Linked DNA regions of Homo sapiens. The protein of the gene in region 4 purifies or fractionates together with the protein of the main gene of each other region. This does not show direct contact. Each region holds a gene or a part of one and is shown on either strand. Other genes may lie near its edges.

What was found.
Region 1: the proteins of LCN9 (region 4) and ITGA8 purify together in Homo sapiens (affinity purification with mass spectrometry; one large-scale study listed by BioGRID and IntAct). This does not show direct contact.
Region 2: the proteins of LCN9 (region 4) and TCTN1 purify together in Homo sapiens (affinity purification with mass spectrometry; one large-scale study listed by BioGRID and IntAct). This does not show direct contact.
Region 3: the proteins of LCN9 (region 4) and COL14A1 purify together in Homo sapiens (affinity purification with mass spectrometry; one large-scale study listed by BioGRID and IntAct). This does not show direct contact.
Region 5: the proteins of LCN9 (region 4) and UBE3D purify together in Homo sapiens (affinity purification with mass spectrometry; one large-scale study listed by BioGRID and IntAct). This does not show direct contact.
Region 6: the proteins of LCN9 (region 4) and NXPH4 purify together in Homo sapiens (affinity purification with mass spectrometry; one large-scale study listed by BioGRID and IntAct). This does not show direct contact.
Region 7: the proteins of LCN9 (region 4) and DNAAF2 purify together in Homo sapiens (affinity purification with mass spectrometry; one large-scale study listed by BioGRID and IntAct). This does not show direct contact.

Annotation. Positions count from the first base shown.
Region 1 is NC_000010.11:15,513,923-15,517,422, forward strand, and holds the end of ITGA8 (integrin alpha-8 isoform 1 preproprotein), read right to left. Parts: intron 3,323-3,500; coding exon 3,236-3,322; 3' UTR 32-3,235; downstream 1-31. UniProt on the Homo sapiens protein: Integrin alpha-8/beta-1 functions in the genesis of kidney and probably of other organs by regulating the recruitment of mesenchymal cells into epithelial structures.
Region 2 is NC_000012.12:110,624,129-110,627,628, reverse strand, and holds part of TCTN1 (tectonic-1 isoform 1 precursor), read right to left. Parts: intron 1,268-3,500; coding exon 1,137-1,267; intron 1-1,136. UniProt on the Homo sapiens protein: Component of the tectonic-like complex, a complex localized at the transition zone of primary cilia and acting as a barrier that prevents diffusion of transmembrane proteins between the cilia and plasma membranes.
Region 3 is NC_000008.11:120,275,102-120,278,601, reverse strand, and holds part of COL14A1 (collagen alpha-1(XIV) chain isoform 1 precursor), read right to left. Parts: intron 1,118-3,500; coding exon of another isoform or gene 1,103-1,117; exon of another isoform or gene 670-1,102; intron 492-669; coding exon 368-491; intron 168-367; coding exon 24-167; intron 1-23. UniProt on the Homo sapiens protein: Plays an adhesive role by integrating collagen bundles. It is probably associated with the surface of interstitial collagen fibrils via COL1.
Region 4 is NC_000009.12:135,661,851-135,666,108, reverse strand, and holds the start of LCN9 (epididymal-specific lipocalin-9 precursor), read right to left. Parts: upstream 2,801-4,258; 5' UTR 2,788-2,800; coding exon 2,692-2,787; intron 1,948-2,691; coding exon 1,811-1,947; intron 1,388-1,810; coding exon 1,314-1,387; intron 865-1,313; coding exon 754-864; intron 459-753; exon of another isoform or gene 422-458; coding exon 366-421; 3' UTR 357-365; intron 249-356; 3' UTR 1-248.
Region 5 is NC_000006.12:83,063,042-83,067,178, forward strand, and holds the start of UBE3D (E3 ubiquitin-protein ligase E3D), read right to left. Parts: upstream 2,801-4,137; 5' UTR 2,678-2,800; coding exon 2,601-2,677; intron 205-2,600; exon of another isoform or gene 112-204; intron 1-111. UniProt on the Homo sapiens protein: E3 ubiquitin-protein ligase which accepts ubiquitin from specific E2 ubiquitin-conjugating enzymes, and transfers it to substrates, generally promoting their degradation by the proteasome.
Region 6 is NC_000012.12:57,223,294-57,226,793, reverse strand, and holds the end of NXPH4 (neurexophilin-4 precursor), read right to left. Parts: intron 1,917-3,500; coding exon 1,047-1,916; coding exon of another isoform or gene 848-1,046; 3' UTR 345-847; downstream 1-344. UniProt on the Homo sapiens protein: May be signaling molecules that resemble neuropeptides and that act by binding to alpha-neurexins and possibly other receptors.
Region 7 is NC_000014.9:49,628,745-49,632,244, forward strand, and holds part of DNAAF2 (protein kintoun), read right to left. Parts: intron 1-3,500. UniProt on the Homo sapiens protein: Required for cytoplasmic pre-assembly of axonemal dyneins, thereby playing a central role in motility in cilia and flagella.

The DNA.
Region 1 (3,500 bases), on a different chromosome or scaffold from region 4:
ATGTGAAATAAACCGAAAGTATGCCATCAAGTCTTTCAGTTTTAATTTTATTAGTGACAAGGTAAATAGGTACATGAAAATCTTCACAGATATCTACGCACGTATTTAAATAAAACAAGAGTCGAGTTCTAAGAATGCAGTTTCAGGGGTGACTAGTACATATTATTTTTTTATTTACTGTATAAAAATCTCCAAGTTTATAAAACTTAATTTGCCCCATTATTGTGTCTTAAAACCCAGCTGCAAGAATTTAAAAAGGGAATTCTTTGAAGAGAAATACAGATAGACCCTCAGAGGAGCACAGCACATTATGAATTATGAAGGCAATCGGCAATGCTCTAACTAGAAGCAGATAACGCTCAGTGTGTTCTCTGTCGTCAGTATGTTCTCTGGGCAGAACGGATTGCTGGAAGGTTTGCCTGACCTCAGTTTCCTCCCTTTCTCCATTTGCTTCCATATTCTTTTTTTATTTTTTATTTTATTTATTTTTTTGTTGAGACAGAGTTTCCCTCTGTCGCCCAGGCTGGAGTGCAGTCGCGCGATCTCAGCTCACTGCAACCTCCGCCTCCTGGGTTCAAGCGATTCTCTCTCTGCCTCAGCCTCCTAGGTAGCTGGGATTACAGGAGACTGCCACCACGCCCAGCTAATTTTTGTATTTTTAGTAGAGATGGGGTTTTGCCACGTTGGCCAGGCTGGTCTTGAACTCCTGAACTCAGGTGATCTGCCCGTCTCGGCCTCCCAAAGTGTTGGGATTACAAGTGTGAGTCACTGCACCCAGACTTTGCTTCCATATTCTAAAGGGCAGAGGGCCACTGCGTGCATGCGCGTGTGTACAACGGCCTTCTGCAATTCCCATAGGTAGCAGTGCCTGTGGGCAGGTGGAAGGTGCCCGTCCCTCTAGGAAAGGGCCATCTTGGCTGAGACTCTGGGATGGTGCAGTTCACTTTGGAGCCCTCATGCCTTGCTTCATTCTGGGTCTCAGTCTTCCTCCTGGCATCTCTAGTTCCTTCCAGGTATCTGCATAAACTATCTCAACAGGGGTCTTTTTTTATGTAACCCTAAGAGTTCTCAGTTCCTTCACCAATGTTGGCTTAAAGACAAGGGGTGCATTTTTTCAGGGACCTTTTAGGACCCCAAATCCCAAGGAGCTAATCTCTATTGGTCACAGATCAGCCAGGATCACCAGATTCAGGGCATTACCTGGGGTCAGAGAGAGCTGTCTGGCATCGCTCACATCACATCCTGTAGATGGCCACCTACTTGTAAAACCAGCTCTACCTGGAAGACTAACACCAAAGACCCCCAGAGGCTGGTGTGGACACCCCTTAATTCTTTGAGGCAACTTCAGTGCTCATCCGTAGTCAGCCACACAAACCAGCCTTGAGCTCCTGACCGACCCGAAACTGCTACCAGGACAGTATTCAATTCACAGGCAGGAAGAACATGAACTGCACCAGCGTGCTCGTCCATGTGCCTTTCATTTGCTCCTCAATGAAGTTCCGCAGCTGTAGCCAAATGGCTCCTCTCCAGCTTATGGCATGACATAAAATTTAGTGTCTGTGAGCTTGGCTCATCTTTCAAACAAAGCGTGATTGTTGAAATCAGGACACAAAGTTTTCCAACAGCTTTGTAAACTTAAGGATTTGGGTCAGCTTGTTCTATCATACTTAACATTTAGGAAATTAATTAAAAAAAAAAACGCCAGTGTAAACATGCTTCAGATACATAGGTCTATAAAATATTGCACATAAAAATTTGTTCAGTATTTCTTCATAGTAATTTTTCATTATTAAAAAAGGATACAAAATTGTGCAGACTACCTATAAATTTGGCTGGTCAATTTTACTTCAAAAATGATAATATTACAAGATTATGAATTATTTACAAGAGTTTTAAACATAAAAAATTTGTGATGGTTAAATTCAAGATGATGGGAAAATAGCTTAAATAAAAGATTATTCTCCAAAGTTACATATTATAAAGATTAGCAGTAAAAATAAGTAATAAAGTTGGAATAAGCAATTTTAAATAAAAATCTTTAGGAATCAGTTTTCCCAGTTTGGCTCATGCCTGTATAATTTTATGTTTTTGTCTAAGTTATATTCAACATGTTTTCTCTGTGTATACAAGTACAAGGCATAGCAGGAAAAACGGGTATTTAATCCCAAGCTAAATATCTATAAGAAGTGTTGCTTCTTATAGATATTAAAAATAATGTTTACCCATAATGTTAAATTGCTTTTTAATTAATGAACTCTAGACATTTTACCATGACTTTTAAACACTCCAAAGGTAGAGAGTACCTCGAAATTCATGTATTAACTAAGTCAATGGAAAGATATACAAGGAAATATAAATGCAACATCTTGCAAAGCTAAATTAAGCAGATGTGAGTCCCTGGATAATGTGAGTGAAAGGAATTTCAGATGGAAGGCAGCAAGGTATTAAATAGAACTGATTCCTAATGCCAATCTTCCTTTCCTTAGCACTGTCTAAATTCTGAAGAAGCTCTGCTAAATGAGTTATCTGCACACAGTGGTTCTTAGGAGGAAACTGAGTGAGTGATTTTGAAAACTAGCTAACCAAATCTTAATTTCCAAATTCTCTAGATGACAGATTCTCAACCTAGAGACATGGAAAATAAATAAATAAACTCTCACCCTCACTCACAAGATTATTTTTGTCCTTTCAAAAGTACTTTCACAGTACCAACAACATATTGCTTGTCTCCCTGAGCCATAATGTCCTTAGAAATGTTTCTTTTCCATAGGGAGGTGTCAAATGTTCCATTGGATACAGTAGTGTTGGATGGTGTGGTCTTAGTTCTAAGTTCTATAGTAAATCAGTCATTTCACCTTAGTTCACCTTGTAAATTCTATAGTGATTCAGACATTTCATCTCTGCAACTTATGCTGGATTGATCTGGACTGCAACTTACGTTCCCATACGCATTTCAAAGTGTCTGCCAAGTACAGAACGATTAAAGCAAAAGAAAATCTTCCACAATTGCTGATGGCTTCTCCAGCTTTGGTGTTTCCTTTTCCAACAGGGCTCACTGGGCACCCAGGACAATTTCTCCAAAGTGCGGTGTAGATGAGGTGATGTTTCCAGGGTCCCCTCCATTTCCTGGGTCACTGTCAGGTATCAGAAAGCTTTGATTTTTAACCCTCATGTTCTTTCTTTTTCTTTGAACAGGACCAGTGTTTGAGGTCTTTGGTCTTCTTTTTTTTTCTTGTCATGCCTCAGGGGTCTTGTCATTTGTCAGCTGTTCCCTGTCGGTCATGTCCTCCTGAGGAGGTCTGGCTCTGTCAAAGAATCCACACTATAAAGGGAAAGATGGGCTATAAAATCACGTCATTCTGGGAACCTGTGAAACCCCTCATTCAAAGAATTTTCACTTTATGTATTTTTTTTTTTTTAAACTGAGTCTCGCTCTCTATTCCCCAGGCTGGAGTACAGTGGCGTGATCTTGGCTCACTGCAACCTCCGCCTCCCGGTTC
Region 2 (3,500 bases), on a different chromosome or scaffold from region 4:
AAAAACACATGTATATATAGAAACCTAGATTCCTATGTATGTCTGCATATTATAAACACTTTTAAGATAAGTATACGGTTTCGAAAGACAACTACACAATCATAATTACTTTTAAAGAAAATGTGCATGCCCACAGGTCTATAAAGTTACTTCCTATTACCTGTGAAATGGTCTCTAAAGATATACACTATACATATAGCAAAACAGAATAATTGCTTTAAATCTAACTGAGGGCTGGACAAGGCAGCTCACACCTGTAATCTCGGCATTTTGAGAGGCCGAGGCAGGAGGATCATTTAAGGTCAGGAGTTTGAGACCAGCCTCGCCAACATGGTGAAACCCTGTCTCTACTAAAAATAAAAAATTAGCTGGGTGTGGTGGCAGGTACCTGTAATCTCAGCTACTCGGGAGGCTGAGGCAGGAGAATCACTTGAACCCGGGAGGCAGAGGTTGCAGTGAGCTGAGAACGTGCCACTGCTTTCCAACCTGGGCAACAGAGTGAGACTCTGCCTCAAAAAAAAAAAAAAAAAGAAAGAAAGAAAAAATAGTAATAATAGGGCTGGGCACAGTGGCTCACACCTGTAATCCCAGCACGTTGGGAGGCCAAGGCAGGTGGATCACCTGAGGTCGGGAGTTCAAGACCAGCCTGACCAACATGGAGAAACCCCGTCTCTACTAAAAATACAAAACTGGCCAGGCATGGTGGCCCATGCCTGTAATCCCAGCTACTTGGGAGGCTGAGGCAGGAGACTCACTTGAACCCAAGAGGCAGAGGATTTGTGATGAGCCGAGATTGAGCCGTTGCACTCCAGCCTGGGCAACAAGAGCGAAACTCCGTCTCAAAAAAAAAAAAAAAAAAAAAAAACCACGCACACACAAAAATTATCCAGGCATGGTGGCAGGCACCTGTAATCCCAGCTACTCAGTAGGCTGAGGCAGGAGAATCACTTGAATCTGGGAGGTGGAGGTTTCAGTGAGCCGAGATTGCGCCACTGCACGCCAGCCTGGGTGACAGAGCAAGACTCTGTCTCAAAAAAACCATAATCATAATTATAAAATAAATCTGACACATTTTTCCATAACTTTGAGAAAAATTTTCCAGAGCTTCACAAAATATATCAATGTCAAATACTTACAGTTTGTAATATGAATGCAGAAAATAGATGGATTAATCTGGTCAACAAGTTCAAATACTCTTTGAGGTGGGTTTGCTGTAAAATTCAATGAATAGATGACTGCTTTTTGACTACAAAACTGGCTGTCGCCCCTGAAAATTAAAAAAATAATAATACAAAGTTACAAGACATAAGCACACAATCTTAGCAAAATTATTTTAAAACTGTCAGATGCTTGTACTGTACTATGTTAACAGTTACGTGGAGGATATTTATGAAAGCATGACGTCCCAGCTACTTGGGAGGCTGAGGCGGGAGAATGGCATGAACCCAGGAGGCAGAGCTGGCAGTGAGCCAAGATCGCGCCACTGCACTCTAGCCTGGGCAACAGAGCAAGACTCTGTCTCACAAAAAAAAAAAGAAAGAAAGAAAGAAAAAAGAAAGCATATTAGAATTGAATCCGGCTGGGCACGGTGGCTCACACCTGTAATCCCAGCACTTTGGGAGGCCGAGGTAGGCGGATCACAAGGTCAGGAGATGGGGACCAGCCTGGCCAAGATGGTAAAACCCCATCTCCACTAAAAATACAAAAATTAGCTGGGCGTGGTGGTGGGTGCCTGTAATCCCAGCTACTAGGGAGGCTGAGGCACGAACATCGCTTGAACCCAAGAGGCAGAGGTTGCAGTGACCCGAGATCGCGCCACTGCACTCAAGCCTGGTGACAGAGTGAGACTCCATCTCAAAAAAAAAAAAAAAATTGAATCCTTTTTTTTGAGATGTAGCCTCACTCTCCCAGGCTGGAGTGCAGTGGCACGATCTCGGGTCACTGCAACCTCTGCCTCTTGGGTTCAGGTGATTCTCCTGCCTCAGCCTCCCGAGTAGCTGGGACTACAGGTGTGCACTGCCATGCCTGGCTAATTTTTGTATTTTTATTAGAGACAGGGTTTCACCATGTTGGCCAGGCTGGTCTCAAACTCCTTACCTCAGATGATCCACCTGCCTCAGCCTCCCAAAGTGCTGGGCATGAGTCACCACAGCTGGCTGAATCCATTTTTATTTAGTTTATTCTGTGTTGAAATATTTTGCATTTGGGCCAGTCACAGTAGCATGCACCTGTATTACCAACTACTCAGGAGGTTAAGATGCAAGGCTCACTTGAGGTTAGGAGTTCGAGGCCAGTCTGGCAACATAGTGAGATCCTCATCTCTTTTTAAAAAAGAAAAAGCTTGGCATTTAAAACTTTTTCCTCTAACAGAAAAAAACAAAATTGAGACAAGTAGAATAACCTTTAAGGAAATCTTGTCAAGAACGTAGATCAGGGTATAATTTTTATGTCAGTGAACTTTACAAACTCTGATAGCATCAATTAGATAAAATTTTGCAGACCTTCAGATTGTTTAAAAGTACCCAGAATAGATCCAAATTCCTTGTCTTTAGAATAAAGCTGTCTTCAAAGGACTGTGAGAGTAAGAAAATGTGGAGTCATCTGGAAGGTTTAATGCTTAGAAGTTATGGTACAGGGCCAGGCACAGTGGCTCATGCCTCTAATCCCAGCACTTTGGGAGGCCGAGGCGGGTGGATCACCTGAGATCAGTCGTCTGGAAGGTTTAGTGCTTACAAGTTATGGTACAGGACCAGGCACAGTGGATCATGCCTGTAATCCCAGCACTTTGGGAGGCCGAGGTGAGCGGATCACCTCAGGTCAGGCATTCAAGACCAGCCTGGCCAACATGGCGAAACCCTGTCTCTACTAAAAATACAAAAATAAATTAGCCAGGCGTGGTGGCATGTGCCTGTAGTTCCAGCTGCTGGGGAGACTGAGGCAGGAGTATTGCTTGAACCTGGGAGGTTGCAGTGAGCCAAGATCGTGCCACTGCACTCCAGCCTGGGCGACAGAGTGAGACTCTCTCTCCCAAAAAAAAAAAAAAAAGAAGTTATGAGTTAAGTCTTCAACCAATCCCAGATTTGACAAATCCCAATCAATTTGCTATAGATACAGATACAGGCCAAGCACCATGGCTCATGCCTGTAATCCCAGCATTTTGGGAGGCTGAGGAGGATCACTTGAGGCCAGGAGTTCAAGACCAGCCTGGGCAACACAGACCCCTATCTCTACAAAAAACAAAGAAAAAATTAGTCCGGCATGCTGGCAGATGCCTGTAGTACTAACTACTTGGGAGGCTGAGGTAGGAGGACTGCTTGAGCCCAGGAGCAAGGTTACAGTGAGCTATGATCGTGTCACTGCACTCCAGCCTGGGTGACAGAGCAAGACCTATCTCAAAAAAACATAGAGGCTGGGCACAGTGGCTCACGCCTACAATGCCAGTACTTTGGGAGGCCATGGCAGGAGGATCACTTGAAGCCAGGATTTCAAGACCAGCCTGG
Region 3 (3,500 bases), on a different chromosome or scaffold from region 4:
CCACTATTGTTTATATATCTTACCATCTAATTGCATCTCCCTGGAGATTTTGTTCACATCATCTTGTGATCTTCCATCAGTTATAACCACGATAACCTTTGGGATGCCCCTTCTTGTACCTGACTCTGCAGTGAACAAGGTATCTCGAACATACTTAATTGCTTTTCCTGAAACAAAGAAAGGCAACAGTTTGATTTCACTCCCTCCCATTTTTGTTTTTCTGGAGAAGAAAGGGTGGGAACAAAGTTCTTAAATTAATGAAAAAAAAAATCTTTAAAAAATTACTATGCCTTAAAATAAAAGGTCATTTCAGTAGTTACAAATAATGAATTACTTTGAGCCTTAGCTGGGCTTCTTTTGGTCATACCTGTTTTTGTATTTCCTCCTTTGTATGAAATGTGTTTAATTGCATCAAGAAGAGTCTCTTTGGTTTTGTAAGCATTTAGTTTAAATTCTGTTCTGGGATCATCAGTGAACTGAACCATTGCAACCTGGAGAGAGAAGGTGTATTCATTTTCACACATATGTAGACTTCCACTGGGTCAGAGAGCAACAGCACAGTGTCACCTGTAGTTTTAATTTCTTCATTATCTCATTACAAAATCTGCTTGGATTAAAATTTCTTTCATACAAGTTACATACCAAATTTGAAGACAAATTAAATACATCTTTTCTTTTTTAAAAATTTTATTTTAGATTCAGAGGGTACATTGTGTAGGTTTGTTACATGGGTAAACGGCATGTCACTGAGAGGTGGTGTACAAATGATTCTGTCCCCCAGGTAGTGAGCATAGTTCCCAATAGGCAGTTTTTCAACCTTCAGCCTCCTTCTATTCTCCCCCTACTAGTAGCCCCTAGTGTCTATTGTTCCCGTCTTTACGTCCGTGTGTACTCGATGTTTAGCTCCCACTTCTAAGTGAGAGCATGCAGTATTTGGTTTCATGTTTCTGTGTTAATTTGCACAAGATAATGGCTTCCAGAGGCACCCGTGTTGCTGCAAAGAACATGATTTTGTTCTTTTTTATGGCTGCGTAGTATTTCTTGCTGTATGTTCACCACATTTTCTTTACGCAGTCCACCATTGATGGGCATTCCATGTTTGTTACTGTGAATAGTGCTGCAATGAACATAGGAGTGCATGTGTCTCTCAGTACTTTCAGAAAGTAGTTTTTTAAAAATCTTTCAAGCTTGTAGGATTTTTGCCACCTCATTTGACAGTTTAAAAATGGCAGCCTAAGCTTGGTAACTTGACAAATGTCCGAAAATCAGAGTTAGACTCTTTACAAAGATTTCCTTATGAAGCAAACCTATGAAGTAATTACTACTATTCTACTCACTTTACACTTGAGGAAACTGAGCTGCAAAAGACAAGTTACTTGCACATCACAAGAGTGGTCACTGGCAGAGTCAACAGTTGAAGTTAGGTCTATTCTAGGTCAAAATGTATGTTCTTAACCACTACTATACAAAGCTTTCTGGCTTCAGTTCTTACAACTGGCTTTTATTCCTGTGGAACTTTTGGATCATTTTTAATTGTTTTTTATTTGTTTTTCAGAATTATGATTTAATAAGTAAAGATAGCATCTTTCGAGAGCTTTGTTTAAATGGGCCTTAAGCTGCTGCCAGTTTATCAGTCTACTGGACATGTCACCATTTTTATAAAGTCTCCTGCAATTCAAAGGGAACTTGCTTCTTTCTGACATGCCTCAGCATGTTACCTATTCTCCTCTTTTTTAATAACCTAATTTTATTTTATTTTTTTTTATTATTATACTTTAAGTTCTAGGGTACCTGTGCACAATGTGAAGGTTTGTTACATATGTATACATGTGCCATGTTGGTGTGCTGCACCCATTAACTCGTCATTTACATTAGGTATATCTCCTAATGCTATCCCTCCCCCTTACCCCCACCATGCAGCCATAAAAAAGGATGAGTTCATGTCCTTTGAAGGGACATGGATGAAACTGGAAACCAGCATTCTGAGCAAACTATCACAAGGACAGAAAACCAGACACTGCATGTTCTCACTCATAGGTGGGAATTGAACAATGAGAACACTTGGACACAGGGTGGGGAACCTATTTTTATTTACAATACTTTTGGAGTACAAGGGTATTTGGTTACATGGTTGAATTGTATAGTGGCAAGGTTTGAGATTTTAGTGCACCCATCACCCAAGTAGTGTACATTCTATCTAGTATGTAGTTTTTTTATCCTTCATCCACCTTCCACCCTCCCCACTCTGAGTCTCCAAGTCCATTATACCACCCTGTGTTCCTTTGTGTAGCTACAGCTTAGCTCTCGCTTAAAAGTGAGAACATACGGTATTTGATTTTCCATTCCTGAATTACTTCACTTAGAATAATGGCCTCCATTCAAGCTGCTGCAAAGTACATTACTTTGTTCTTTTTTATGGCTGAGTAGTATTCCATGGTGTGTGTTTGTGTAAAATATATATATAATATATTTTTTTACATATATATATAACATTGTCTTTACTCATTGGATGACAGGCACTGAAGTTGGTTCTATATCTTTGCATTTGTGAATTGTGCTAAAATAAACATATGTTTACTGGTGTCTTTTGACATAATGACTTCTTTTCCTTTGGGTAGATAGCCAGTACTGGGATTGCTGGAACCAAAGGTAAATCTACTTTTAGTTCTTTAAGAAATCTCCACACTGTTTTCCATAGAGGTTATACTAAATTACATGCCCACCAGCAGTGTATAAATATTTCCTTTTCACCACATCCACACCGACATCTATTGTTTTTTGACTTATAATAATGGCCATTCTTACAGGGGCAAGGAGGTATCTCATTGTGGTTTTAATCTGCATTTCCATGATGATTAGTGATGTTGAGCATTTTTCCATATGTTTGTGGGCCATTTGTGTATCTTCTTTTGAGAAATGTTTATTCATGCCATTTTCCCATTTTTTGATGAGATATTTGTTTTTTTCTTGCTGATTTGTGTGTGTTTCTTGTAGATTCTGGATATTAGTTCTTTGTCAGATGCATAGTTTGCAAATATTTTCTCCCATTCTTGTGTTTTCTGTTTACTCTGATGATTAGCTGTTCAGAAGGTTTTTAGTTTAATTAGGTACCATTTATTTATTTTTGTTTTTGTTGAATTTGCTTTTGGAGTCTTAGTCATAAATTCCTTGCCAGGTCAATGTCCAGAAGAGTTTTTCGCAGGTTATCTCCTAGAATTTTTATCATTTCAGGTCTTAGATTTAAGGCTTTGATCCATCTTGAGTTGATTTTTGTATAAGGTGAGAGGTAGGGATCCAGTTTCATTCTACATGTGGCTATCCAGTTTTCCCAGTGCCATTTATTAAATAGGGTGTCATTTCCCCAATTTATGTTTTTGAATGTTTTGTCCAAGATCAGTTGGTTGTATGTATTTGACTTTATTTCTGGGTTCTCTCTTCTGTTCCATTAGTTTATGTGCTTATTTTTATATCAGTATCATGCTGTTTTAGTAACTATGGTC
Region 4 (4,258 bases):
AGACCTTACCACCCTGGAAGGCCCCATCACTGCCCCGACTCCAGGATGCTTTTCACAGCATCTTTCACCAAAGCACCTTGTGTTCGGTTCCCAGACCAGGGGGAGGGATGGGCACCTCCTGGGGTGGGACCCCGCAGCCTCTGACGTTGGCCCCAAGCTCTCCCCATCCAGCCCCCTGCCCGTCCCGAGTCGCAGCTCACGCATGGGAGGCCTGGGCGGGCTCCTGTAATGCTTGGAGTAGCAGGGATCTGGAAGGACAGAGGGGGCTCTCAGCGCAGGGACAGGGACCCCGCAGGCACACCTCCCATCCCCACCCTGTCCCGGCTCCCGCTTGGTCCGGGAGCAGTGGGGCTGACCTTTGTTGGTCAAGTCGATGATATTTTGTGAGCCAAGTCCGTACTTTTCGCAGGTTTCTTCAAATCTGCTCAGGAAGGAGGGTTCCAGCTATGGGACCCGTGCTGGGAACAGAGTTGGTTCTGTGTGAAGCTGGGCCTTGCTGGGGGTGCTCAGGAAGTGCTGAGGCTGGGCAGGGGGTCACGCCCTGACCAGAGAGGGGCTTTGTGCCAAGTGAGATGGGAGGTGACAGATTGAAGCACCCAGCACCCTAACGGTGTGTCTGTGGGAAGGAATAGCCAACGGGAACCACCTCTCCAAACCCCAGGGCCACTGCGAGACCCTCCTCCGCCCAGGGTTGGGCCGGACTTCAGAGGAGGTGGGGTCCCCGAGGGGGTCAGAGGGGGACAGCGGAGGTACCATAGAGCGCCAGCGTGTGGGTCTCGGTCCCGTTCCTGAAGTTCTGGAGGTGGAAGGTGATGAACAGCCTGTAGTCAGTCTCCGAGACGGCCACTGTGTTCTGGCCCTCATCTGCGTGGAGACATGGCTCAGCGTGGCCTGGCCCCGCCACCCTCAGGGTCCTGTGACACGTGCTGTGTGGCCGCAAGTGAGGATGGGGGGTCAAGTGGCCTTTTGAGGCGGGAGGGGAGGAGCCCACGGTGCTCACCCAGCGGAGACCCCTGCACAGGGGGCGGGCAGCAGCGGCACAGCCCCCTCCCTCCTTGTCATTGGCTTGCAGACCCTGGTGGCCCCTCAGTGGGCTCACCCCCCAGAGCTCAGCATGACACACCTGCCTCCCTGCTTCCCCTGGGCCAGGAGCCCCCCTGGGTAGGTGCCAGGATGGGTCCCTCCAGTTCAGGGTCAAGCTGTCAGGGGCTTAACTAAAATCCCCAGAGTCAGTGCTCACCAGAATATGGCCCAGGCCCTGGAGAAAGGAGACCCCCGACTGTGAGACCAGGAGGAGCCTGGCTTCCACTTACAGTTGATGGAGTATTCCCCATTCTTCTCTGTCTTCTCGCAGACCACGACCACAGCCACACACTCCCCCTGCACCCTGGAAGCCAGCCAGGAAGATGCCGGGAGTGGAGCTCCAGCCCCCTGGACGTGCGATGGCAGAGAGCACCCCTCCTCCAGGGCACAGGCTCACCCTCCCAATGCCCAGGCCTCATTCCACAGCCCCAAGTTCTTGGGCTGGGCCCTGCTGCAGCCCACCGGACACCCTCATCTCCTCGAACCTCACCCCAGCCTTGGAAGGGGGCGATTTCATCTCTATGTTTCAGGGAAGAGCACAGTGCCAGGCAGACCAAGTCCCTGCTCCCACCTCACCCTGCCCCCAAGGGTCACACGCACAGGCTCAGGCTCTCACCAGAGTGCAAGTCAGTGAGTGTGCGAGCGTGTGTGTGCAAGAGTGAGAGTATGCGTTGGGGTGGCAGGGGCATGGGTCTTCCTGATGCCAGCTGAGATGGGCAACACGCACATGTATTCGAAATCAAATATTAGGCTGCCGTTCTTCAAGTGTTCAATATTCCGGACGAAGACCCTCAGGTCTCCATTTTCTTTAATCCGATTCAGGTCATCTGAGGCCATGAAAATAGAATACCAGACCCCTGAAACCTGAAGACAAAGAGCTCCAGTGGGTGGGGGGCCGCGGGACAGCCCTGGGGATGCTTAGCGCCCACAGTCTTCCCTCCCAGGGCCCGGCCCCTTAGCATCTGGCTCCCAACCAGAACCCCTCCGCCCTTCCAGTGCCCCCAGGTCTCCCCTCGTCACCAGATCCCCCCTTTACCCCCAAGGTCGCCCCTCTGCTCACAGAATGCCCTCCGCCCTTCCAGGGCCCCCGCTGCCCCCCAGGTCTCCCCTATGTCCCCAGATCCCCCCTTTGATCCCAAGGTCCCCCCTCTGCTCACAGAATGCCCTCTGCCCTTCCAGGGCCCCCTCTGCCCCACAGGTCTCTCCTCTGCCCCTCCAGGTCCCCCTCTGTCCTCTCAAGGTCCCCCGCTCCACCCTTTCCCACTGAGTCCCCCTCTTTTCCCTAGGTCTCCCCTATACTTCTAGGAACCCCTCTGTCCTCTTAGGGCCCCCATCTCCCTGCTGGCCGCCACTCCACTCTCCAGCTTTCCCCTCTGCCCTCCCAGGGCCCCCTCTAACCTCTCAGGGCCCCAGTCACTCTCCCAGGCCTCTCCCACCCGACCCTCCCGGAGTAACCCCTGCTCTCCCAGGCTGCTGTCACAGCTTGGGGAGGAGAGGTGGGCTCCCCTTGGACCAGTTGCCCTGGTCACAGGTCAGAGACCCCAGGCTGGGGGAAGACAGGTGCCTTGAAGCCTGGCCCCTTCCCCACAGACCCCAACGCAGACACACCCTGGCCACGTTGTAGTTCCTCTGCATAACGGTGTGGGGATCGAACTCCTGGGCTGCGATGAGGCTCAGCCCCAGGCTCAGCAGAAGCAGAGCCATCTTTGCCGTGGACGCCTCAGCCCTCGGCCCACCCCCTTTATACCCTGCTGCCCTGCGGCTTCCAGCCCTGCAGGGCGGCCCACTCTGTGGCCCGTCCACACACATCCTGTGCCCACTGGGCATGCAGCCAAAGGCCCCGAGGCTGCTGCCCTCTCTACCTTGGGGAAGATCACCCCACTCCCTTGTGGGAGCTTCCTGGATCCATGGGCAAAGGAACCTGCTGTCCCCTCACTGGAGGCAGGCACCTTGTCCCAAATGCAGGGGACAGCCTCTCTCTCAGCCTGCAAGAGGACCCATGGTGGCTGTGTCTGTGGAGTACAGGGTGTCCCTGTTCCCCTCCCATCCCCTCCCGCTCCTTCCCCAGCACAGCGTCTGGGGCCGGAGCCAATGGTGAGTCACAGCGTCCCCAGACTCAACCGACGGCCGGGCGCTTATTCGCTCCTTATTCTCTCAGCCCAGTAACGAGATGCAGACGAGCTGGGAAATAAGAGAGTTTGCTTCTGTCACCGGGTACAGGCAGAAGCCCGGGAAAATAGCACTAGACCAGCTCAAAATTGCAGTTTTCCAGAGCTTATATATCTTCGAAGCTGTAGGTCTACGTGTAAGTGTGCATTCAGCTAAAGACACAGTGATGAACTTCTTCTAATCTATAATTAAGGCCTGAGTCCTGAAGAACTTCCTCTGGAGCCTCAGTAAATTTACTTAATCTGGAGGGGTCCAGGTGCTGGGGTGATTCCCCTTATCTTTTCTCCTGCTAAATCATGGAGGTTTGGGGCGTTCCTTTAGACCCCAGTAAAACTTGTTTAATCCTAAACGGGTCCTGTTAAGAATTCCTTTGTTATCTTGTCATGCTTCAAGGCCCAGGAGAGGCCTGGGCAAAACTCTTGGTGGGCTTTTGTTACATTCCAGCCTCTGTTGAAGGGCGCTGGCCCTCTCAGCTTTTAATATTTGACTTCACCACCCGGTCAGTGCTGAAACAGTTGTCGTGGAGGCCGGCCTATTCAGCCGTTAGTGAGACCTGGCCTGCCACAATCCCCACTGTCAAATTATGCATGATTGCTATCATGCTTGTATATTTATTTCTTATGAGAATCATGGGGGGATGGGGCATTATAATCTTTCTGGCTACTTCCTGCTGATAGGAGGTCATTGTTACGGGGCACCAAACGCAGTGTTGGAGTGAAAGATGTTGATTTGTTCCCAGTAGTACTCTCTGTTTTGGGGGCCTAGAGAAAGCGCCTGTTGAAATAGTATGAGCTGGAGGGATGTTTTGGAACAATGTGCAACAGCAATACATTCCACAATGTAACATGATGCCGGTGCCTGCAAGGACGGCCTGGACTGCGAGGACGTTCAGCCCCGAGGGAGACCCTCTGCTAAGCCATGATGTGGTTCGGTCATTAACCGATAACCTAGGGCTGGAGATGACCTGCATCTGTGGACGATAGCCCTTTTTTTTTTTTTTTTTGAG
Region 5 (4,137 bases), on a different chromosome or scaffold from region 4:
AACTAACCCTTAAGGAATAAAAAAACGATAGAGTGGACTTCATTAAAATTAAAATTTCTGTTCATCAAAGGACACTATCAAAAAAACGAGGCAGGGCATGGTGGCTCATACCTGTAATCCCAGCACTTTGGGAGTCCAAAGTGGGTGGATCGCTTGAGTCCAGGAGTTCAAGACCAGCATGGGCAATATGGTGAAACCCTATCTCTACAAAAAAATACAAAAATTAGCTGGGCATGGTGGCATGCAACTTGTATCCCAGCTACTCCAGAGGCTGAGGTGGGAGGATTGCTTGAGCCCAGGAGGTTGAGGCTGCAGTGAGCCATGATCACACCACTGCACTGTAGCCTGGGCAGTAGAGCAAGACGCTGTCTAAAAAAAAAAAAAAAAAAAAAAAAAGAAAAGAAAATGAAAAGTTAAGTCACAGATAAGAATAGTCATATATTCACAAGGCATTTATGTGAGAAAGCTCTTGTTTTGAGACAGTATAAAGAACTCTCAATTAAACAAGACAAATAATCTGATTATGGGCAAAAAAAATTAGAAGATACTTTTAAAAAGAACATATATGAATTGCTAAAAAGCAAGTGAAAAGGCACTCAACATTATTAGTCATCGGTAAAATGAAAATTAAAACCACAAGATACTATTTTACACACACTAGAATGGTTCAAACTAAAAGGACTGATAATACTAAATGTAAGTCAAAATGTAAAGTAGTTGAAACTCATTTTTTTTCTGGTTGAACGTGCAAACTGGTACAATCACTTTGGAGAACTGTTTGGCAATTTCTCACAAAGTAACATGCACATCTATCCTATGACCCAGAAATTTCACTCTTAGGTACTTACCTAAAAAGAAATGAAAATGTATGTCCAAAAAAAGATTTATACAACAGTGTTATGACAGCTGTATTCATAATAAGCAAACTCCAGAAACAAGAAAAACATCCAGCAATAGGAGAACAGATAAATGAATTGTGGTATATTCATACAATGGAAAACTTAGCAAGAAAAAGGAATGGACTACTGATATATGCAGCCACATAGATGGAACGTGAATCTGAAAAATATTATGGAAGGAATGCAGCCAGAAACAAAAAAGTATATATTGTATGAATCCATTTATAAGTAGTTCAAGAAATGGCAAAACTAAGTCCAGCAAAGTTAGGTTTCTTTTTTTTTCTTTTTATTTTTTATTTTTTGAGACGGAGTCTCTTTCTGTTGCCAGGCTGAACTGCAGTGGCGCGATCTCAGCTCACTGCAACCTCCGCCTCCCGGGTTCACTCCATTCTCCTGCCTCAGCCTCCTGAGTAGCTGGGACTGACTAAAGGTGCGCGCCACCACACCCAGCTAATTTTTGTATTTTTAGTAGAGACAGGGTTTCACCATGTTGGCCAGGATGGTCTTGATCTCTTGACCTCGTGATCCGCCCGCCTCAGCCTCCCAATGTGCTGGGATTACAGGCATGAGCCACCCGGGTACCTTGCCTAAACAAAGGAGAGTAGTCCAAGGGAACTGTGAAAGGCCCCTGCATGAGAGGAAGGGAGGGTTTGTTGTGTGTGTGTGGTTTTTGTTTTATTTTGGTAGGGTTTGGGTTCCTAATTACTCTACAAGGTGCACCAGAATTGGAGATATTTGTCCAAATTCATAAATTTTGAAAGAGAAAAAGAAATACATTCAGAGTACTATTATTCCCATTTCAAGATTGAAGAAATTCAGATTAAATTATTCTAATTTCGTGAGGAAGCTAGCATTTGAACTCAGTTCTCACGCCATATTCCAAATTGCCACACCAGATATCTGGCAGATTTAGGGAAGAGGAAAAAATTAAGCATCAATCTACCTGTGGCACCGTGTAATACCATTCTCAGGATTTTAACTTCTAACTTACTCTCTTTGAAACAGCGATCACAAAGGAATAGACAAGGGGACCACAAATCATTAAAACTGCTGTCAAACAAAATAGAGAACATTTTTCCTAAAAGTTATTTGTGTAGCGAATAACAAGTTTGACGTTCTCACTGGAAGGAAGAATATGAATAAATGAACGAGCTCCAGTAAGAAGTCTACAACCTGTCTTAGTGGTTCACTAAACTCACGTTTATTGAATGATTGTGTGGTTTCTCTGCAAAGAGCAGTTTTGGACGAAAAGACCCGAGGTTATTTACAAAACAAGAAGCTCACATAGGAACTGATCCAGTAAGGAGGATCCCGAAGAGAGACAGACAAATCATTTTTTGCATTGTTTTGTTGGAAACGCCGGGCACTGCCAACAGTGTTTTACATCACTGTTCCTCAAATTTTAATGTGCATTTGATTCCTGGAAATCTTGTTAAAATATAAGTTTTGATTCCATAAGTCTGGTGTGGAGCTGAGACCCTGAATTTCTAAAAAGCTCCCCAAAGATACCCACACTGTCAGTAGGGGTGGGAGTGGCGGAGCCGACTACAGGGGAAAGCTTCACTTTGAGTGATCGAGAGGCTCTACGCAACTGGAAAGAAGAAACTCAAAATCCCTCGTACAGAGAGAGACTCACCAGCCCCCGACCCCCGGGCAGCAGTAAAGCGAGCTGGGCACTGCGCCTAGAATCCCAGTTCTTACCCCAGGATCAGAAGCGCGCTCTGCAGCTGTCCCCGCACCTCCAGAAACACGCGCGTCTCCGCCGCAGAAGCCGCCATGGCAGGCTTCCAGTCCCAGACCGGACCAAGCTGGAGGTTCCGAGGGGCCCGGGTCAACAGGACCAGGAGAGGTTCCACGTGCGGACCAACCAGCGGCAGCCCCGCTGCGGCGCAGGCGCCTGTGCCAGATCGCAGGGCTGGCGCCGCCTACCAGCTCACAGCGCCACCTGCCGGCCGGAGAGTGCACCACCGAGAAGGCGCGTGACCCCGGAGGCCGGGGCGGGGCGCGCATTTTCAAAACCAGGCTTTGGCCCAGAGTGCTGAGAAAGGTGGGCGGCGAGAGGCTAGCTATCGCCCCACTCTGCTTCTTATGAGCGTGACTTGGCGCGTTAGCATCCCTGGAAATGACCATAAAAATCAGACCCAGGGTTCACACCTTTGGCTAGCTCGAAGGGAGGGAGATGATGGAGGCAAGTGTTACAGGTGGGCTTTGTCCCCAGGAGATGCAAGAACAGAATTCCCGGCCCCAAACCCACTTTATCTTGGTCTCTTTATGAACAAGGGTCGTTTGTTAGCCTCTATCTAAAGCGACAAAATTTTCAAGAATTGACTTGCCATTGCTTCTCAACTTAGACAGGATAGCTCCAAAATTGAAACAGGTGCAAAAATATAAGGAAGTTCTTTGTTACCTAATGCAGAAGAGTGTGGCTGAAGTCTATCAGGACTAACCATTTTTTAGGGGGTAAAAAAGGAAGATGAGAATGATTACGTATGTACAGCTCCACTATTCACTTTCACAAAAGTAAAAACTAAGAGAAGTTGGAGAAGTTTACTACCAGAAGATAGTTTTGAAAAGTTTGACACAGTAAAGAACCTGGTATAATGTAAATACTTATAATGAAGAACTATTAAAATATAAGACCGGGTAGAATTACAATAGGGCTTCTTAAAAACAAGGAGCTGCTTTTATTTATTTATTTTTTTTCGGAGTCTCGCTCTGTCGCCAAGGCTGGAGTGCAGTGGCGCGATCTCGGCTCACTGCAACCTCTGCCTCCTGGGTTCAAGCGATTCTCCTGCTTCAGCCTCCCGAGTAGCTGGGATTACAGGCGCACGCGCCACCATGCCCGGCTAATTTTTCTGTTTTTGGTAGATCCGCCCACCTTGGCCTCCCAAAGTGCTGAGATTACAGGTGTGAGCCACCATGCCCAGCCTAAACCATAAATAAATTCTAAATAAATAAATCCTGTCATATATTTTAAGATAATAGCTTGACAATTTTTCTAAAATCAGTATTTGGGGTGATTAAAGTTTATTATGTTGATGCACAAATTATTATATCTATCACAATAATTTGAAGTTATAGATGGAAGCAACAACTCACTTAAAAAAATAAAGTTTACTATTATTTGGTCTCAAATAATTCATCTATTTGAAGGATGATGATTTCAACTCTTCATATCTTCCACCTTTAGTACCCGAGGCTATTGAATGCTTAAATATTGACACATTATATTGAAATA
Region 6 (3,500 bases), on a different chromosome or scaffold from region 4:
CGCTCTGCCTACACTGTCCCTGTCCATCCCATTCAAGGTCTTACACCTCCTTCCCCAAATCGTCCGCTGGTGATCCCCACTCAGGTCTCATTTCCATCCCACTTGCTGCAGCTTCCCTTCGCCCACCTCAGGGAGGAGAATCCCAACCTCAGGCGGGGCTCCTACCCCGAGGGTAACCCTCAGCTCTCTTTGATCTGGTCTTTGGTGACTTCCAAGGTGCTAGCTCTGTCAGTCTTTGTCTTGGTTTCCCCAAGAGCCGCTGAGGGAGAAGGCCTTGGCCAGGTCTCTACCACATAGAAGCCCCACGCCACCTCCCCATTCCCTACAAAGGTCTCACACAGGCGTGTATTGGATTTCACTTTATTTTGTTCCCTTTCCCGTCTGTTTTGGCGTAGAAAAAATATCACCGAGAGGAAGCAGCAGGAGAGGGCAGGTGGAGCTCGACTGCCTGGACTGGAGGGGGGCGGGCAGGGGCAGGGGCCGGGGGCAGGGCCAGGGCCTCAGCCCAGGGGTTCTGCTTCCGGTACCCTAATAGGGTTTGGAGGAAAAGGGGACAGGCATATGGCAGGCAGAATGGTGGGAGGACAGGCCGAGGTTTTTAGGCCTTTACAGTCTTAGGCGGGGTAGGGTGAAGCAGGACAAGCGCTGGGGGATGGGAAAGTCAGGGTGGGGTGAGGGTGCCAGGCCAGGAGTTATTAAAGCTGCGGGGAAAGGGAGTGCGCAGCCTAGCGCCAAGGGTGAAAAGGGGACCCACTGTGGACCCAGGGGACATTGGGACCGCCTCCAAGCCCCGCCTATTCTGGGGCTGCACTCTTATCCCTTTCACTTTGGGGTGTACTGGAGGGGGCTACCCCAGCCTTGCGGGCACTCCGCATAAGGAAAAGGGCACCCACGCTAGCTGAGGGTCCCGAGAAGCCATTCCCCTCCGCCCCCAGAGTGGAAGGAGTGGGCGACATGGCCACAGGAGCGGCAGAACACTGGGAAGGGGGTCCCACCTAGTGAGGCTGGGATTTGGCGGGAGGCTCAGGACTGGCTGGGGAGGGGCGCTATCCGAAGTAGGGGTGCTCACTCTGGAAGTTATAGTCTGGGCACACCTTCTGCACCAGTTTGTAGTCAAAGCTGAGGAAAGAGACGAAGATACAGATGACTTTGAAGGGCTTGGCACAGAGCCAGGCGGCCTGGCTCTGCGTGTGCTCGGTGAAGCACACCTGCGACGGGTCGTACAGGCACGGTCGGTGCTTGCGCGCGCGGTTTGTCTTCTCATACTCCACGTGGCAATTGAAAGCGCGTGACTCTTTGGCCCCAGGCACTCCCAACGCGCCCCCAAGCGGCCCCGCCAGTGCGCCCCCGAGGGAGCCCCCAAGCCCGGGCCCCGCCGCTGCTGCTGCCATCCCCAGCGGGGGCCCCAGCCCAGGAAGCACCCCCTCCAGGGCGAGCGTAGACTGCAGAGGGTGGGGGACAGGCCCGGGCAGCCAGACTCCTCCGAACTCGACACGCTTGGAGGGCGGCACGATGCTGACACTGAGGTTGCCCAGGCTGGACGAGTTGTGGCGGAAATACACACTGAAGGTACCGTTCACATGGTCCACGATCTTGCCGGTCACCAGCAGCGAAAACTTGAGGGTATGCACCCGAAAGTAGAAGTCCCCCCAGCCGAAGATCTTTTTGGCGCGCGCCGCCTTGATGGACGGCTTCCTCTTGGTGCGCTGCGCGGGCAACGCCCCGGCTGCCCCTGCCCGGGCCAGCGCCCCCGTGTGGTTGGTCGGCCAGGCCCAGCTCCAGGCGCGGCCCACGCCTAGGCCGTCCGAAGACCTTGGCTCTGGGAGCTGCTGGCCGGGGGCACCCGCTCCGGCCGCGGCGGGGCGCAGCCCCAGGTACTGCGGCCTTCCGGACTCTGGTATCTGGGCACTGACGGCCTGTGCACGAAGAAAGAGGAGAGAGAGACGCTGGGGTTGTCCCCCGCCATCCTGCCAGAGCCCTATCGACGCCAGTCCCTTTCCACAGCCGCTAGGAGACCAAATGGAATCACGCAGTCCCGCAGCGGGCAGGGAGCGTGCCTTGGAGGAGAACTGCAGCCCTTTCAAGCTATGTAGTCTTGGCCCAGTCACTTCATGGATCTGGGCCTCAGTTTGTACATCTGTGAAATGACGTCAAGAATCCTGATGTGGCCCACAGAGCTCCAATGAGGGCCAAAAACCCAAAGCCAGTGTGAAGGTGAGTAGGGAGTGGAGCTCTGGATCCTGGCTCATCTTTCCTGGCCCGGCACCTGGTTGGTTCCAGTAATGAGCCAGGGAGGGACTGGACTCTGAGCAAACTGAGCCAGGGAGGCTGTGACCACATTAACATCCAGCATCAAGAAAGAGGCTCCCGCCCGGCACACGCGGTGACTCACGCCTGTAATCCCAGCACTTTGGGGGGCTGAGGTGGGCAGATTGCCTGAGGTCAGGAGTTCAGTTCGAGACCAGCCTGGCCAACATGGAGAAACCTAATCTCTACTAAAATTAGGCGGGCGTTCTGGGGTGCGCCTGTAGTCCCAGCTATTGGGGAGGCTGAGGTGGAAGAATCACTTGAACCTGGTAGGTGGAGGTTGCAGTAAGCCTAGATCGCACCATTGCACTCCAGCCTGGGCGACAGAGCGAGACTCCCTCTCAGAAAAAAAAGAAAAGAAAAGAAAAAAGGAAAGGAAAAGAAAAAGAAAAAGAAAGAGGCTCCAGGACCTCAGAGACCAGAGCCCCCACCTGGGCCTCAGCCCCAACTGGCCTGCAAGGAGTGAGTGCTGGGAACCAGTTGAGCAGAGGAGGAAAGCCTGGGTATCCCTCCCAGTCGCCAGTGCTCCACTCTGGTGGAGGCCGCCTGGCCGTTCTTTTCCTGGGCTCCAAGGGGGCTAAGGAGCCCCCTCCTGCTCCCACCCGTTCTATGTGTCTCAGGTGGCCACCGATCTTGGAGACAGCATGGGCTCGAGGACAAGATGGATCGAGAGGCAGGAGCGGCCGGGCCAGGCCCGGGCCATCAATTATCTGGGGTAGGGGTGAGTGGGGGTGGCCAGGAGTGAAGGAGACAGGAAGCAAGAGGAAGAAATATGGAGATGCCGCTCCAGCGAGGGGAGCAGGCAAGAGAGGAGCTGCATGTCAGAGTGTGTCAGTCAGCCTGAGCTAGCCACCACCGCCGCGTGCTGTGGCCCTGACTGTGCACAGGTCCCATGGGGGGAGGCAGTACCATGTGTGTCAGCCTGGGGTTCTGGTGTCTCTGTTAGCCCCAAATGGTTGTGTGTGTGTGGCCGGTACATGTGTGTGTGGCTGTGGTGGCTGTGTGGGTGTGTATCTGGATGCCCATGGTTATGAGTCTGAGGAGCCTGTGTGTGTGTGGCTGCTTGTCGTGGCTGCATGTCTGTTGTGTAAATCGGTGACTGTGTGTATGTGCCTGGATTGGCTGGGTGTGTGTGTCAATTTGTGGAGTGGTGTCTGTGTGACTGGTGTGGTTACGTGTCTGGGTTGGCTATA
Region 7 (3,500 bases), on a different chromosome or scaffold from region 4:
ACAGCTGGCCTCTTTTAGTATTTCAGAAGAATAACATCATCTCTAGGGCTATAAATGGGATCCCAGATACAAAATATAATTCAGCTTTAAAACATTTCCTAATGAGGTGGCTAAGAAATATACATGAAAAGATCTATTCAAATTTTGTGTGACCTTTTAGTTCTTGGGCAGGTAAGAGCCAATTACAGTATTTTATTTCAAATAAGTGGTGTGTTTTTTTGTTTGATTTTGTTTTTGAGACAGAGTCTTGCTCTGTCTCCCAGGCTGGAGTGCAGTGGCATAATCACGGCTCGCTGCAGCCTTGACCTCCCAGGCTCAAGTGATCCTCCCGCCTCAGCCTCTACAGTAGCTGGGACCACAGAACATGCCACCACTCTCGGCTAAGTTTTGCATTTTTTTGTAGAGACAGGGTTTTGCCCTGTTGCACAGGCTGGCCTCAAACTTCTGCACTCAAGTGATCCACCTGCTTTGGCCTCCCAAAGTGCTGGGATTACAGGCGTGAGCCACCACCACACCCAGCCCCCGCCCCCCTTTTTTTCTTTTTTTTGCCTTGAGACAGGGTCTCACTTTGTTGCCCAGGCTGGAATGCAGTCGCACACTCATAGCCCCCTGCAGCCTTGACCTCCCTGGCTCAAGCAATCCTCCACCTGTGCCCCCAAGTGCCTGGGTACCTGGGACTACAGGTGCATGCCATAATGCCCAGCTAATTTTTACATTTTTGGGGCCTGGTGTGGCAGCTAACGCCTGTAATTCCAGCACTTTGGGAGGCCAAGGTGGGTGGATCACTTCAGGTCAGGAATTCGAGACCAGCCTGGCCAACATAGTGAAACCCTGTCTCTACTAAAACTGCAATCACGTGAACCCGTGAGGCGGAGATTGCAGTGAGTCCAGCCTGGGCGACAGAGTGAGACTCTGTCTCAAAAAAAAAAATTTGACATTTTTTGTAGATACAGGTCTCACTTTGTTGTCCAGGCTGGTCTCCAACTCCTGGATTCAAGCTGTCCTCCTACCTTGGCCTACCAAAGTGCTGGGATTACGGGCGTGAGCCACTGCACCCAGCCAAGTGTATTATATTTTTAAGCACTGGGATACTCCAGCGTAACATTAGCAAACTGTATAGTTATTAAAAGAATGAAGTAGAGAGCATATATTCAGGGCATTTTGAATCTATGCTCCAGAGAAAAAGTAAATTATGAAAAAAATTAGGCTGGGCACAGTGGCTCATGCTTATAATTCCAGCACTTTAGGAGGCCAAGGCAGGTGGATTGTTTGAGCCCAGAAGTTCGAGACCAGCCTAGGCAACATGGCAAAACTCATCTCTACAAAAAATACAAAAATTAGCCGGGAGTGGTAGCATGCACCTGTGGTCCTAGCTACTCCAGAGGCTAAGGTGGGATGATCGCTTGAGTCTGGGAGGTTGAGGCTGCAGTGAGCCATGATCGCACCACTGCACTCCAGCCTGGGTGAGACAGAGCGAGACTCTGTCTCCCAAATAAATAAATAAATAAATAAATAATGAGGTAGATTTCAAGATGCTGACATGAAAAGATTTCTAAACTATTACTAGAAAATGCAAAAATCACCTTTTACCTGAATCCCAAACACAAAGCAGTTTGTTCATGTCAAGTGAATACAGGTGTATAGTTAGGGTGTGGGGAGAATAACCATATTAACCATATTTTAAATTAATTTATAAAAGCAGTTCATTGTTGCCCCAAATAAAAATGTTTTCCTCTGTAGTTTTATATAAGCAAATTTTGTAATTACAAAATAAACACAGCTCATTATTTGGTCCAAATAGGTGGAAAATATCAGAAAGAAACAAGTTTCAAGTTTCTTGAACTTGGGAACATATATTCAGGGCAACTTGAATATGTGTTTCCCAGGTTGCAGTCCTCTATTTTGGCCCAAATAAACTCTCTCTCCACACACACACACACACACACACACACACACATAAACTCTCTACACACACACACACACACACAAACTCTCTACACACACACACACACTTTTTTTTTTTTTGAGAAAGAGTCTCACTCTGTCACCAGGCTGGAGTACAACTGCGTGATCTCAGCTCACTGCAACCTCCACCTCCCGGGTTCAAGCAATTCTCCTGCCTCAGCCTCCCAAGTAGCTGGGACTGCAGGCGTGCACCACCACGCCCAGCTAATTTTTGTATTTTTAGTAGAGACAGGGTTTCACCTTGTTGGCCAGGATGGTCTCAATCTCCTGACCTCGTGATCTGCCTGCTTCAGTCTCCCAAAGTTCCGGGGCTACAGGTGTGAGCCACCACGCCTGGCTACGTATTTTTCTTCCATTAAACAGTATTTAAAATCGTGAAAACCTACCAAACAAAAGTGAACCTTGGGAATAGAAAAATTTTACATTTAGAGTAACTGGCTTTGCTATTATTTGAAGATCCAGAATAACACAGTGTTACAGAAACATCCCCATCGAAAGCATTTCTAAGGTTCATGCCTCTGGGAAAAGACATCATCTTTGACTCCTTGCAAATAATACACCAAATATTTTAATTTTTAGTTATCCGAAGGAATATATAGTGGACATGGTTATGATTAAAATACAGAAGATTTGCAGCCGGGCGCGGTGGCTCATGCCTGTAATCCCAGCACTTTGGGAGGCCGAGGCGGGTGGATCACGAGGTCAGGAGATCAAGACCATCCTGGCTAACACGGTGAAACCCCATCTCTATTAAAAATACAAAAAATTAGCCTGGCGTGGTGGCAGGTGCCTGTAGGCCCAGCTACTCGGGAGGCTGAGGCAGGAGAATGGCGTGAACCCGGGAGGTGGAGCTTGCAGTGAGTGAGCCGCCCCACTGCACTCCAGTCTGGGCGACGGTGCAAGACTCCATCTCAAAAAACAACCAGAAGATTTGCATAAACTTGCCTTCTCAGTCTAATGACTGATTAAATGACTAATGAACTGAAAAAGTTACTGACCTCAGAGGCTCTGAAGATTTAGGAAAATTGTCAGTAAACACTGAAAACTTCAATACATATATTTAGTATTTATTTGTAAAGTTCTGACCTTGAAAGCCACATAACAGTCTCTTTATGATTATTTTCATGTAATGCATATAATATTATCATTATATATGTTCCACTACTCATGATTTTTTTCCAAAAATTTAACACTGAGAGCCTGGTCCAGTACAAAGTAAAGCAAAAGAGTTACATGCTGTTGTTCCATCAGCTTTAGAAAAATGTGATGATTAGTGAAGTAATTACAAATCTATTTCAGGCTTCAAAGATATAAAATACAGTTGCCCTAATCCCATTTTCGTCGTTTATTTTCTAAAATGTTAGCATACTTGAAAATCGGATTAAAATGTATTATTGAATATTTTCTTAATTGCTTGTCTACAAAGTTTTCTTCCCACATTGTGGGTTATTTTCATATTTACTAAAACTGTTACAGGAAAACAACTGCCCTTTCCTAAATGTCCCACTTCTGATGACAAAAACAGATACTCAGTT